Regions from separate parts of the Homo sapiens genome. Here region 2 is linked to region 1. Evidence: fine-mapped expression QTL. A gene starts in region 1. The other region holds a variant in brackets. All regions are shown on one strand. Distances are between the middles of the regions. Region 1 holds the start of ACP6 (acid phosphatase 6, lysophosphatidic). Region 2 overlaps ACP6 (acid phosphatase 6, lysophosphatidic).

Region 1 (5,376 bases):
GTGAATGTGGTTGTTTCTTATCTAATCTCATTATTAAAACTGAGTTTTTACATAATATTAAATGCAATCCTCTGAAGACAATTTGGCTGGGAAAGGGCTTATTTCCCGAGCCATCCCTGCCTGGTAGTTTAAAACCAGGGTCAAAATAACAGCTACTCAGTGTTCCCCTGCTTCCTGCAACCACCCTAACACCCCCACCCACACGGTCCTACCCTGGGTCAGGACTTCCAGTCTCTCTCTTTCTCTCTCTCTCTCTCTCTCTCTTTTTTTTTTTTTTTTTTTTTTTGAGATGGAATCTCACTTTGCCGCCCAGGCTGGAGGGCAGTGGTGCAATCTCGGCTCACTACAACCTCTGCCCCCAGGTTCAAGCGATTCTCCTGCCTCAGCCTCTCGAGTAGCTGGGATTACAGATGTGTGCCACCACACCCGGCTAATTTTTGTATTTTTGGTAGAGACAGCGTTTCACCATGTTGCCCAGGATGGTTTCAAACTCCTGACCTCAGGTGATCTGCCTGCTTTAGCCTCCCAAAGTGCTGGGATTACAGGCGTGAGCCACCGCGCCCGGCCCAGCCTCTTTTAAATTGCAGCTCACTGCCACTACTATCACACACAAAATACATCTGGACTCCCCATGGTTTGTCTCACATGTGTTGACAAACAGTGCTTTTAACAACCACATGAAATCAGCTATTTTCCACCCTCACTCTGGTTTCTTTTGGAGATCTGCTGCTAAGTTGTTCCCCACACTTCCCCACACTCCCCCTCCAACAGGACACATGAGCCCTGACAGGACCATTGCTGTATTAGTCCGTTTTCACACTGCTATAAAGATACTACAATTTATAAACAAAGGAGTAAATTTACTCACAGTTCTGCATGGCTGAGGACAGGGGGAGGCCTCAGGAAACTTATAATCATGGCAGAAGGGGAAGCAGGCACCTTTTTCACAAGTTGGCAGACCAGAGAGGAGAAAGAAGGAGGAATTTCCAAAAACTTATAAAACCATCAGATCTCCTGTGTGGAGAGAGAGATCCTTCTTTCTCTTCTTATAAAGCCATCAATCCTACTGGATTAGGACCTCACATTTATATCTTCACTTAACCAAAATTGCTACTGGAAAGGGGTCCTGATCCAGACTCCAAGAGAGAGTTCTTGGACCTCGGGCAAGAAAGAATTTGGGGCGAGTCCATAAAGTGAAAGCAAGTTTATTAGAGAAAAAGAGAAACAAAAGAATGGCTACTCCATAGACAGAGCAGGGGCATGGGCTGCTCAACTGAAAATACTTATGGTTATTTCTTAATTATATGCCAAACAAGGGGTGGATTATTCATGAATTTTCTGGGAAAGGAGTGGGATTTCCTGGAACTGAGGGTTCCTCCCCACTTTAGGCCATATAGGGTAACTGCTGGCCCCGACATTCGTAAATTGTCATAGTGCTGATGGGAGTGTCTTTTAGCATGCTAATGCATTATAATTAACGTAAAATGAGCAGTGAGTTTGACCATAGGTCACTTCCATCAACATCTTGCATTTGGTTGGTGTTGGCCAGCTTCTTTACCACTTCCTGTTTTATCAGCAGGGTCTTTTTGACTGGTTTCTTGTGATACCAGTCCTGCTGACCTCCCCCCTCATCCTGTGACTGAGAATGCCTAACCTCCTGGGAATGCAGCCCAGTAGGTCTCAGCCTCATTTTACCCAGCCGCTATTCAAGATGGAGTCACTATGGTTCAAATGCCTCTGACAGAATCACCTTCTAAAAGTCCTATGTCCAAATGCAGTCACTTAGTGGGTACGAATTTGGCGGGGGACACAACTGAGTCCATAGCAAACAGTATTCGATTTTTAATCACATCAGCACACACAATAAGACTCTGAAAAGTGAGTCCCTTGGCTGGGCTAGGGAGAAAATTGTGACAATATGTAGTGTTCCAAAATGACCCTCCTCCCTGCATCAGGGAGGGGAGCACTCAGAACCTTCCAGCTTGGTGAACAGAATTTGTTCTCAGGCCAGGAGCCATGCTCTGTAAGTATGTTGTCTTTACATCTGGCCCAGTTTGATCTTTGGAGATAGACACATAGTGGGTCCCAGATTGTGTCCTGTTGCAAAGATCTGGAAACACAGGCTTGGGATACCTGTATATCAACAGAAACCAGACTAGCAGGTGGTAAGGCTGGCATTGTTCTGTGTTCTTAGGTTTTTTTTTGTTTTTTTTTTGTAGACGGAGTCTTGCGCTGTTGCCCAAGCTGGAGTCGTGTGGCGCGATCTCGGCTCACTGCAAGCTCCGCCTCCCGGGTTCACGCCATTCTCCTGCCTCAGCCTCCTGAGTAGCTGGGACTACAGGTGCCCGCCACCACGCCTGGCTAATTTTTTTTTTTTTTTTTTTTTGTATTTTTAGTAGAGACGTGGTTTCACCGTGTTAGCCAGGATGGTCTCGATCTCCTGACCTCATGATCTACCCGCCTCGGCCTCCCAAAGTGCTGGGATTACAGGCGTGAGCCATGGCGCCTCTTAGGTTCTTAATCACTGGGACACCCACAGGCAAGGCCTGGCTTTTTCCACAAGAAGTATTCTGGATGGAAGTAAACACATCAGTGACCTGAAAGTTCTACATGATTACAATGACTTAAGCTTGAGAATTTTTTTAAAAACAGAGAAGGGAGTAGTAAATGACTAAATATAAAGCACCTAGTGCTGTGTTTCGCAAATGGCAATCACTCGGCAGGTGTCTCAGCTCCTCGCTGCAGCAACCAGGCTTCCAGGACTGGAAGGAAGTCTTCTACATTCAAAACTAGACTCAAACTACTCCCCTCCACCACCCAGTTCTACTCCTGCGCTCGCGATCCTCCTGCCTGGCAAACTCCATGGCCCGACAGATTCACTACCACTCCACTGCCGGACCAGGCACGTCCGTGGGCCATCCACGCCTGGAAAACGGCTGGCTGGGCCGGAGGGGCGAGGCCCGCAGGCGAGGGGGGCGGGTACAAGCCACTTCTTGGGAGCCGCGGTACGCGCAGCCTTGTGGGAGTTGTAGTTTCCGCAGCTCTGAGTCTCCAGGCGAGGTGTCACCACAGGACTCGTTTTCCCGTGCTCCTGTGCGCGGGTCCACTTGGGACGGGTCCCTGAGTAGGTGAGGAGGTGGGTAGGAGCTTGCTTATAGAAAAGTGGAATCGAGTAGTCCTTGCTGGTGGAGCCGCTGCCGCCAGGGAACTCAGGGCCGGCTCCTGTTCCTTCAAGAGTGCTGGAGGCCAAACTTGAAATACAAGTTTAATGTTCCTCGTCGGGCAAAAGATAAGGATCCGATCTCCCCCGGCCCGGTGTGCAGCAGGAGCGACCAACCCCGACCCGGGTTAAAACTCCCAGGGACTCTTCGCTGCTGCCACCTCTTGTTCTCTCCCCCGTTCCCACTCGGGGTCTCCCTCAGGGCCGGGAGGCACAGCGGTCCCTGCTTGCTGAAGGGCTGGATGTACGCATCCGCAGGTTCCCGCGGACTTGGGGGCGCCCGCTGAGCCCCGGCGCCCGCAGAAGACTTGTGTTTGCCTCCTGCAGCCTCAACCCGGAGGGCAGCGAGGGCCTACCACCATGATCACTGGTGTGTTCAGCATGCGCTTGTGGACCCCAGTGGGCGTCCTGACCTCGCTGGCGTACTGCCTGCACCAGCGGCGGGTGGCCCTGGCCGAGCTGCAGGAGGCCGATGGCCAGTGTCCGGTCGACCGCAGCCTGCTGAAGTTGAAAATGGTGCAGGTCGTGTTTCGACACGGGGCTCGGAGTCCTCTCAAGCCGCTCCCGCTGGAGGAGCAGGTGAGAGGTCGGCCCGGGCTGGGGCTGGTGGGGCGAGGACCGTGTGCCAGGCCAGGAGTCTCGCCCTGACACACATCTTCAGAGCTTTACTCGCGCGGAGCGGGGCTCGGGTTGGGTCCAGAAGAAGGGAAAACAGCAGTAGCCAGTGACTCCCCAGGCTCTTGAGCAAAGGACCTGCTGGGGTTAGGACAGCCCCGGAACTTCCAGTTTTGCCCTGATGGCGCAGCCATCAGTAAGCGCTGCTTAAGACGCATGGGAGTCGCCTGGGGATCCTGCTACGTTGCAGATTCTGATTCAGCAGGTGTGGAGTAGTGCCCCAGGTCAGCATTTCTATTAAGGGTCTAGGTGAACTTGAATACAAGGGTGCAGTGCACTTCTGTGTGACCATTTTGAAGGTGGTTTGTCAGAGCTGAAGGGCTGAAGGGACTTTAGTGATAGGAACCACTCTTAACTGAGATTACAGTGGATAAGAGGTCGTTGCCTTTGGAAACAAACTTTATAACTGCTTTTTCTCAGGGTTTGCTGGAGGCCATTTGAGATCTCCTGAAGTTTTTTTTTGTAACAAGTGTTGTATTCTAGGGTTCTCCTTTTCTATTTAAGGTTACTAAACCTATAGTGGGAGGGATCTGAGGTCGGAACAAATTTAAAATGGGCTAGTCTGTGGCAGTAATGTTTTAAAAATCTGTCTGGTTTTGTCAGGATAATTATGACTAAAGCACAAATAGTTTAAAAAAAAATGATTATCTTTCCTGGATGTGACTTTTTATAGCAGAAAGGCCTAGTGAAGAGGAACAGGCAACCTGAAATCCCCAAACTCCCAGGTATTACACCTGTGGAGTGCTTTTGTATCGTTGGTCTTCCAGGTTGATGTTGGAGGAGGTCGAAAAGATTGTCCAAAATTGATGTTAGGTATACTCTTCATAATAACAGTTGCTTTCTAGAAACCTTCAGGATTGTGTCTTTACATTGTACAACTGGAAACCCATTTTTCAAGGTTGGCCGCACATGAAATTAAACTTCTAAAGCATTTTCCACATAAATAAATACATTTGGAAGGCACTTAATTCTATTACCAGGTTTCTAGTTAGCCTTACTCTGGCTTTACCACTTGCTCTCTGGAACCGGGATTTCTTCTTTCATTTTGATTCTTTGATTTTTTTTTCAGTCTCTTACTTTGCCTTTTTATATTAGATCACTAAATTTTCCTTATGATTTTGTATACAGCCCATCTCTGATGCTCCCCTTCCCCCAATTCTTCTCTATTTATTCTTGGTACAGAAGGACTGGGGAATCACATGTAGGAATATATATTATATTCACGTAGAAGACAAAAAATTATCAGTGGTAATGGAGAGTAAAACTTTGAATGTGTAGGCCTAGACCTAGTATGTACCATATATATATATATATATATCCTGAAGGCACTAGGAAAAGATTTAGATTCTTTTAGGGCTTTATCCCTAAGGGAGAGTGGGTGTGTGATGGATATCTTCTGCCTTTATGGTTGAAAGGTCCGTTGTAGCTTAGGATACCAGCTTCATTCATCTTCAATCTGTGTAGCCACAAAATAGCATCTG
Region 2 (5,376 bases), 24 kb after region 1:
GCCTGGTGACAGAGCCAGGCTCTGTCTCAAAAAAAAAAAATGTTGGAAGTAGCTCATGAGCCTCCATTGCCACTTTTGGAGCCTTGAATCCAAGGTTGGGACTACGGCTGTGGAATATTATGTGTCCTAGGCACTTGCTAAGTGCGTTCTGCAGGAAAACAGCTTCACCGTTGCCCAAGAACTCATCAGGTTCTCAGGCTCCAGCCTGATCTACTAAATCAGCATCTGCAGTTTAACAAGATCCCCAGGTGATTGATAGTCACCTGAATTTTGGAGAAGCACTGTTGTGGTATCACAGCTAGAAACTCATGATGGCGTAAGAGGAATAGGAGACAGTGAGTTGAAACAGGAACTTTGGGCCAAGATTTGTAATAGCAAATCTTGTGAATACCATTTCCTGTCCTTCACAGTACCTGCAATGACAGTACATTTTTTCTGGCTTTTGCCACCTTGCCACCTTCTGCCTTGGATCTTTAGAACACCACAGGATCCAATGCTAGTCTTCTAGGATGGGGGTCCATAAATAAAATCCTTGGTCTTTCCTAAGAGATGGATACTGGTGTCAGGCAGATGTAGATTAAAATGGCATTCTTATTACAGATTAAAGCCATTTGGAGAATGTGCTGAGGGCCAAATGGGCTTGTGAATATTATTTTGAAATAAACTTAATACCCCAAAACTTCAAGCTTCCCCAACAAGGAGCCCTACTAAACTCATCCCATGGCTGAGAGTAGGAAGGGCATTCATGTAGGCTGGCAGGACCCAAAGAGAGAAGAGAGGTAGGGTCTAAGCCACACACGCTCAGTTTCTTCTTTGAAACTCACCAGGGAGGAGTGAGTAGGTGGCAAGGAGGAGGCCAGGAGAATTTCTCTGGCGGGGACCCTCCTCATGAAGACACGGGGAGTGGGAACAAGGGTTCTTCCCACGATCTACTGCAAAGGACTTTTATACCAGGCTCAGCTGATTTCTAGATGTCACCTAGTTTCTGAGGCAAGTGTGTCTTACGTAAAGGAGGCAGGCCACATCCTGACCTTCAGAGTCCTGAGGCAGAGAATTGTGGAGAGCTGTTTCCTCTTGCAGAAAGCTGTATCTCTATGCGGCTCATGATGTGACCTTCATACCGCTCTTAATGACCCTGGGGATTTTTGACCACAAATGGCCACCGTTTGCTGTTGACCTGACCATGGAACTTTACCAGCACCTGGAATCTAAGGAGTGGTTTGTGCAGCTCTATTACCACGGGAAGGTAATACCCCTGAGGTGGGGTTGGGTGGTGGTGAGGCACCCTCCTGCAAAACCCACCTACCTGAGTTAGCACCAAGTCTCCCTCCTCAGGCCCAGTGGAGTCTCTCTTGGCACAGTCAGCTCTCTGAATCCTATAGGGCAACTCCTGGCTATGGCCCAGGGGTCAGGCAGAACTTGACAGATGGTGGCAGGATGGGGCTTGAGCCTTATCCCAGTTCTGTTACAGACTCCTAGGAACAGGGTCCCCCTCCTCTTCTCCTGAGCGTCCCTGTCAGGATGTCGCCTCCTGGCTGTGAGACCTGTTTTGGAGATTGTTGGTGGTATCTTTGGGAGGTGATGTGTGCTGCTGTTAGCACCCGTGGTGTTGGCTGCTTCATCAGGGCTGGGGTCCAGGGCAGAGGCCAGAGCACGCCCCAGGGATGAGCCTGTTGGTTCTCCCAGCTCGGGGATGTAACTCGACTCTTTCTTCCCAGTCAATTCAACACTTTTTGAGTGACTTTTACAAGCAGAGCATAGTGCTTTTATTCTGGAAGCTCACCGGGTAGTGGGGCCTTCCTGTCTGTAATATGTATGCACATGTATACCACATGGATCAGAGCCTCTCAGATCTCTGGGCTTAGCTGGAAATAGCAGAAGGACAGGTTCCTCGGCGGACCTGCTGAGTTATGTTTCTTCTGCAGGAGCAGGTGCCGAGAGGTTGCCCTGATGGGCTCTGCCCGCTGGACATGTTCTTGAATGCCATGTCAGTTTATACCTTAAGCCCAGAAAAATACCACGCACTCTGCTCTCAAACTCAGGTGATGGAAGTTGGAAATGAAGAGTAACTGATTTATAAAAGCAGGATGTGTTGATTTTAAAATAAAGTGCCTTTATACAATGCCTCCTGCTTTGTGTGTTTGGGAAGAGGAGAGAGCAAGGGGTAATGTACTTTAATATAATGTAAGGATATTTCCTTTCTGTGGGTTTACTAAGATTTCTTCCTGAACGGAAAAGGGGTATAATATTGAGACCAAAAGGATATTTCTCTATTTTGTGAGTTGGTTTCTAAGGTTAGAAGCATCTTTGTGTGACACGGGCTGGGGACATCATGACCCTGTAGAATTGTGTCGGTTTTGGACTTTAGTTCTTTTCTCCTATATTAATTTCACATGTATTGAGCTACCTACTAAGTAGTGATCATTATAAAGGTGAAAACACTCTGCCCTCAAGTTGTTGCAGTCCAGTGGGAGAGGCAGCCGAGTAAATCAGTGATACAGTGCTGTATGTTTTATGCTGTAATAGGTATTTGAGGGGCTATTTGGGTATAGAGAAGAAACTTCCTGCTCACATGGCAGGGGATGTGGGGAACAGTCAAGGAAGGCTTCTGAAAAAGTCCTGGCCTGATCTGAGTAGAGAAAGGTGGGTAGGAGTTAACCAGGAAAGCAAGGATGAAAGCGTGTTGCGTTTAGATAAAGGATAGGCTTCAAGGTCAGGGAACGTTGCTGGGTGGTGAGATGGAACCCTGATGTGGAGGCTCAGCAGGAAGAAGCAGGAAGGACACTGGGCCCC[T/C]GGTGGTTTTAGTTCCAGAAACAAATGTGGGCCCCAGGGCTCTGCAATGGTAAGGCTGGAACTACTCAACATAAGAGCTCCACCTTTAACTGTGCCCCCTAAGAGTACCTGATGATCCCCCTATCTCCTTGTCAATGTTGCTGTTCTTCTCCAGAATCTATTTCAACCCTTCTCTGATTTCAAACCACCAGTCCCTTTACCTCTCAGAGAAAACAGCAACCACAAAAGCCTCTCCACTTCCTACTATCTTAATATTGACAACTTCCAGATCAGGGAGCTGAGATATCTCAAGCTCAGGTTTCTCTTCTGAGCTTCAGACACTTTTATCCACTTGGATTTCACTGGCACAAAACTTTCCATGTTAGAATCAAACCCCCCTCCTCCCAGACCTGCTTCTCCCACACACTTCCCTATCTGAATGAAAGACACCTCCACTCTCCACCCAGTTGCCAAATCAGAAATCTGTCTTTGTTTTCTTTGTCTCACATTTTCCTATGTCTAATCAGTTAAGTTTTATCAATACTACCTGTTTATTTCTTTAATCTATTCACATATCTTTATCCTCAATCTTCAGCATCCCCTTCCCATCCTCAGTCTGCTGGTTACTGTATTTCCTATTTTACTAAGAATCTAAAAGAGATCAGAAGAAAACTTCCACATCCCCCAACACCCAACCACCAAATCTGCTAACCCAGTTGCATTGGTGCTTTTATAGCCTTCCTTCCTCCCTCTTACTAAGAATGAACCAACACTATTCCTATCAAAGCCCAACCCTCTAGCTTTACATTGACTCCTAGTGTCTTTTTTCTGGATTGTCAATTTTTTTCCTGACCAATTATTCTATTAGCAATACAAATATGCTGTAAAATCTCTTAAACTTTTTTCTCTGCATCTTTGAACTGCTGTTCTCTTTTCCTTCTCCCCTTCATAGCAGAACTCCTCAAAAGAGTTGCTACCTCTAATTCTTCCCTTCCAGTTCTCTCATGAACCAGCTACAATTAAGTATTCACCCCCACCACTCCATGGAAACTGCTCTTGTCAAAATCATCAATAGCCTTTGTGTGGTGAATCCAATAGCCAGTTTTCATTCTTCTTACTAAGCTTCTCATCAGTATTCCTAGACTATTTCCTTCACTGGCTTCGACAAATGCTTTCTTGGTTTTCCTCCAATTTCTCGACTTTGTTCCTGCTGAATCTACCTTTTTCTAATCCGTAAGTGTTGGGGTGTCCCAGGGCTTACTCCTTGGACCTTTTTTCCACCTTTTCCCCTACACTCACCCACTAGGTGATCTCAAGAATTTCCAGTTTGAGGCCGGGCGCGGTGGCTCACGCCTGTAATCCCAGCACTTTGGGAGGCCAAGGCAGGCAGATCACCTGAGGCCAGGAGTTCGAGACCAGCCTGGCCAACATGGCAAAACCCTGTCTCCACTAAACCTGCCTCTACTAAAAATACAAAAATTATTATATTTTTATAAAATTATTATAATTTTATAAAATTATTATATTTATGGAGTACAATGTGATGTAATCCCAGCTACTCGGAAGGCTGTATGTGTCTATTTATGGAGTACAATGTGCCTGTAATCCCAGCTACTTGGGAGGCTGAGGCAGGAGAATCACTTCAACCTAGGAGGCAGAGGTTGTGCTGAGCCAAGATCGTGCCATTGCACTCCAGCCTGGGCAACAAGAGAGAAATAACATCTCAAAAAAAAAAAAAGAATTTCCAGTTTTAAATATTTACACAATGTCTCCTAAATTTATACCTTCAACCTAGACCTTTCCCTGTGAATCCCAGTCTCATTTCCAACAGTCTAATCAATGTCTCTATTTGGATGTTTAAGATATACAATAGGTATCAAACTTCCCATTGTCCACAATAAACTCTCAATTTCCGTGCCTTTTCAAACTTACTCCTTCCACAGGCTTTCCCATCTAGGTAAATGACACCACCATTCACCCTGTTGCTTTGGCCAAGAACTTTAGAACTGCCCTTGACTCCCCTCTTTTTCTCATATCCTACCTCTACTACATCAGTAACTCCTGTTGTATCTCTCTTCAAACTATATCCAGAATTGACCATGTCCCAATACTTCCATTGCTACTGTCTTAGTCCCAGTGTCATCTTTTACCTGGATTATTGTAAAGGCCTCGTAACTAGTCTTCCTGTTTCTGCCCTTCCCTTCTCTGCCCATCTATTCTCAACACAGTGTTGCTTTTAAAACAAAGTAAGATCGTGCCACTCTTCTGCTCTAAATTCCCCATTGGTTTCTCATCTCAAACTAAGGGCCAGTCATAATGCCCTCACGGTCCTATGACATCTCACTGCACCCCAGCCATACTCGCCATCTTACCATTCTTCTTCTTTTTTGTAATAAAAACTTTTTACTTTCTTTTTAGTTGACAGATAATAATTGCGTATATTTATGGAGTACAATGTGATGTTTTGATATATGTATGCATGAGGGAATGATTAAATCAAGCTAATTAACATATTCATCACTTCATCTACTCATCACTTTCTTGTGGTGAAAATGTTTCAGATATACTCTTTAGTAGTTTTCAGGTGTACAGTCGCTGTGGTTT

What was found. PIP is the estimated chance that this variant, and not a neighbour inherited with it, causes the effect. A credible set is the group of variants that fine-mapping cannot tell apart.
Region 2: its variant is the best candidate, but not a certain one, in a credible set for the expression of ACP6 in uterus (GTEx, PIP 0.87).

What each region holds. Positions count from the first base shown.
Region 1 is chr1:147,668,253-147,673,628 of GRCh38, reverse strand. It overlaps ACP6 (acid phosphatase 6, lysophosphatidic), which reads left to right and starts at 3,105. Exons shown (of 10, transcript NM_016361.5): 1 at 3,105-3,799. The coding sequence starts at 3,581. RefSeq lists enhancers at 2,643-2,712, 3,153-3,402, 4,043-4,102, 3,314-4,257.
Region 2 is chr1:147,644,116-147,649,491 of GRCh38, reverse strand. It overlaps ACP6 (acid phosphatase 6, lysophosphatidic), which reads left to right. Exons shown (of 10, transcript NM_016361.5): 9 at 1,081-1,246; 10 at 1,926-5,376. The coding sequence ends at 2,069. Among named protein-coding and RNA genes, the nearest start is that of ACP6, 24 kb to the left of the region's middle. The variant T/C (reference allele first, on the strand shown) is at 2,794.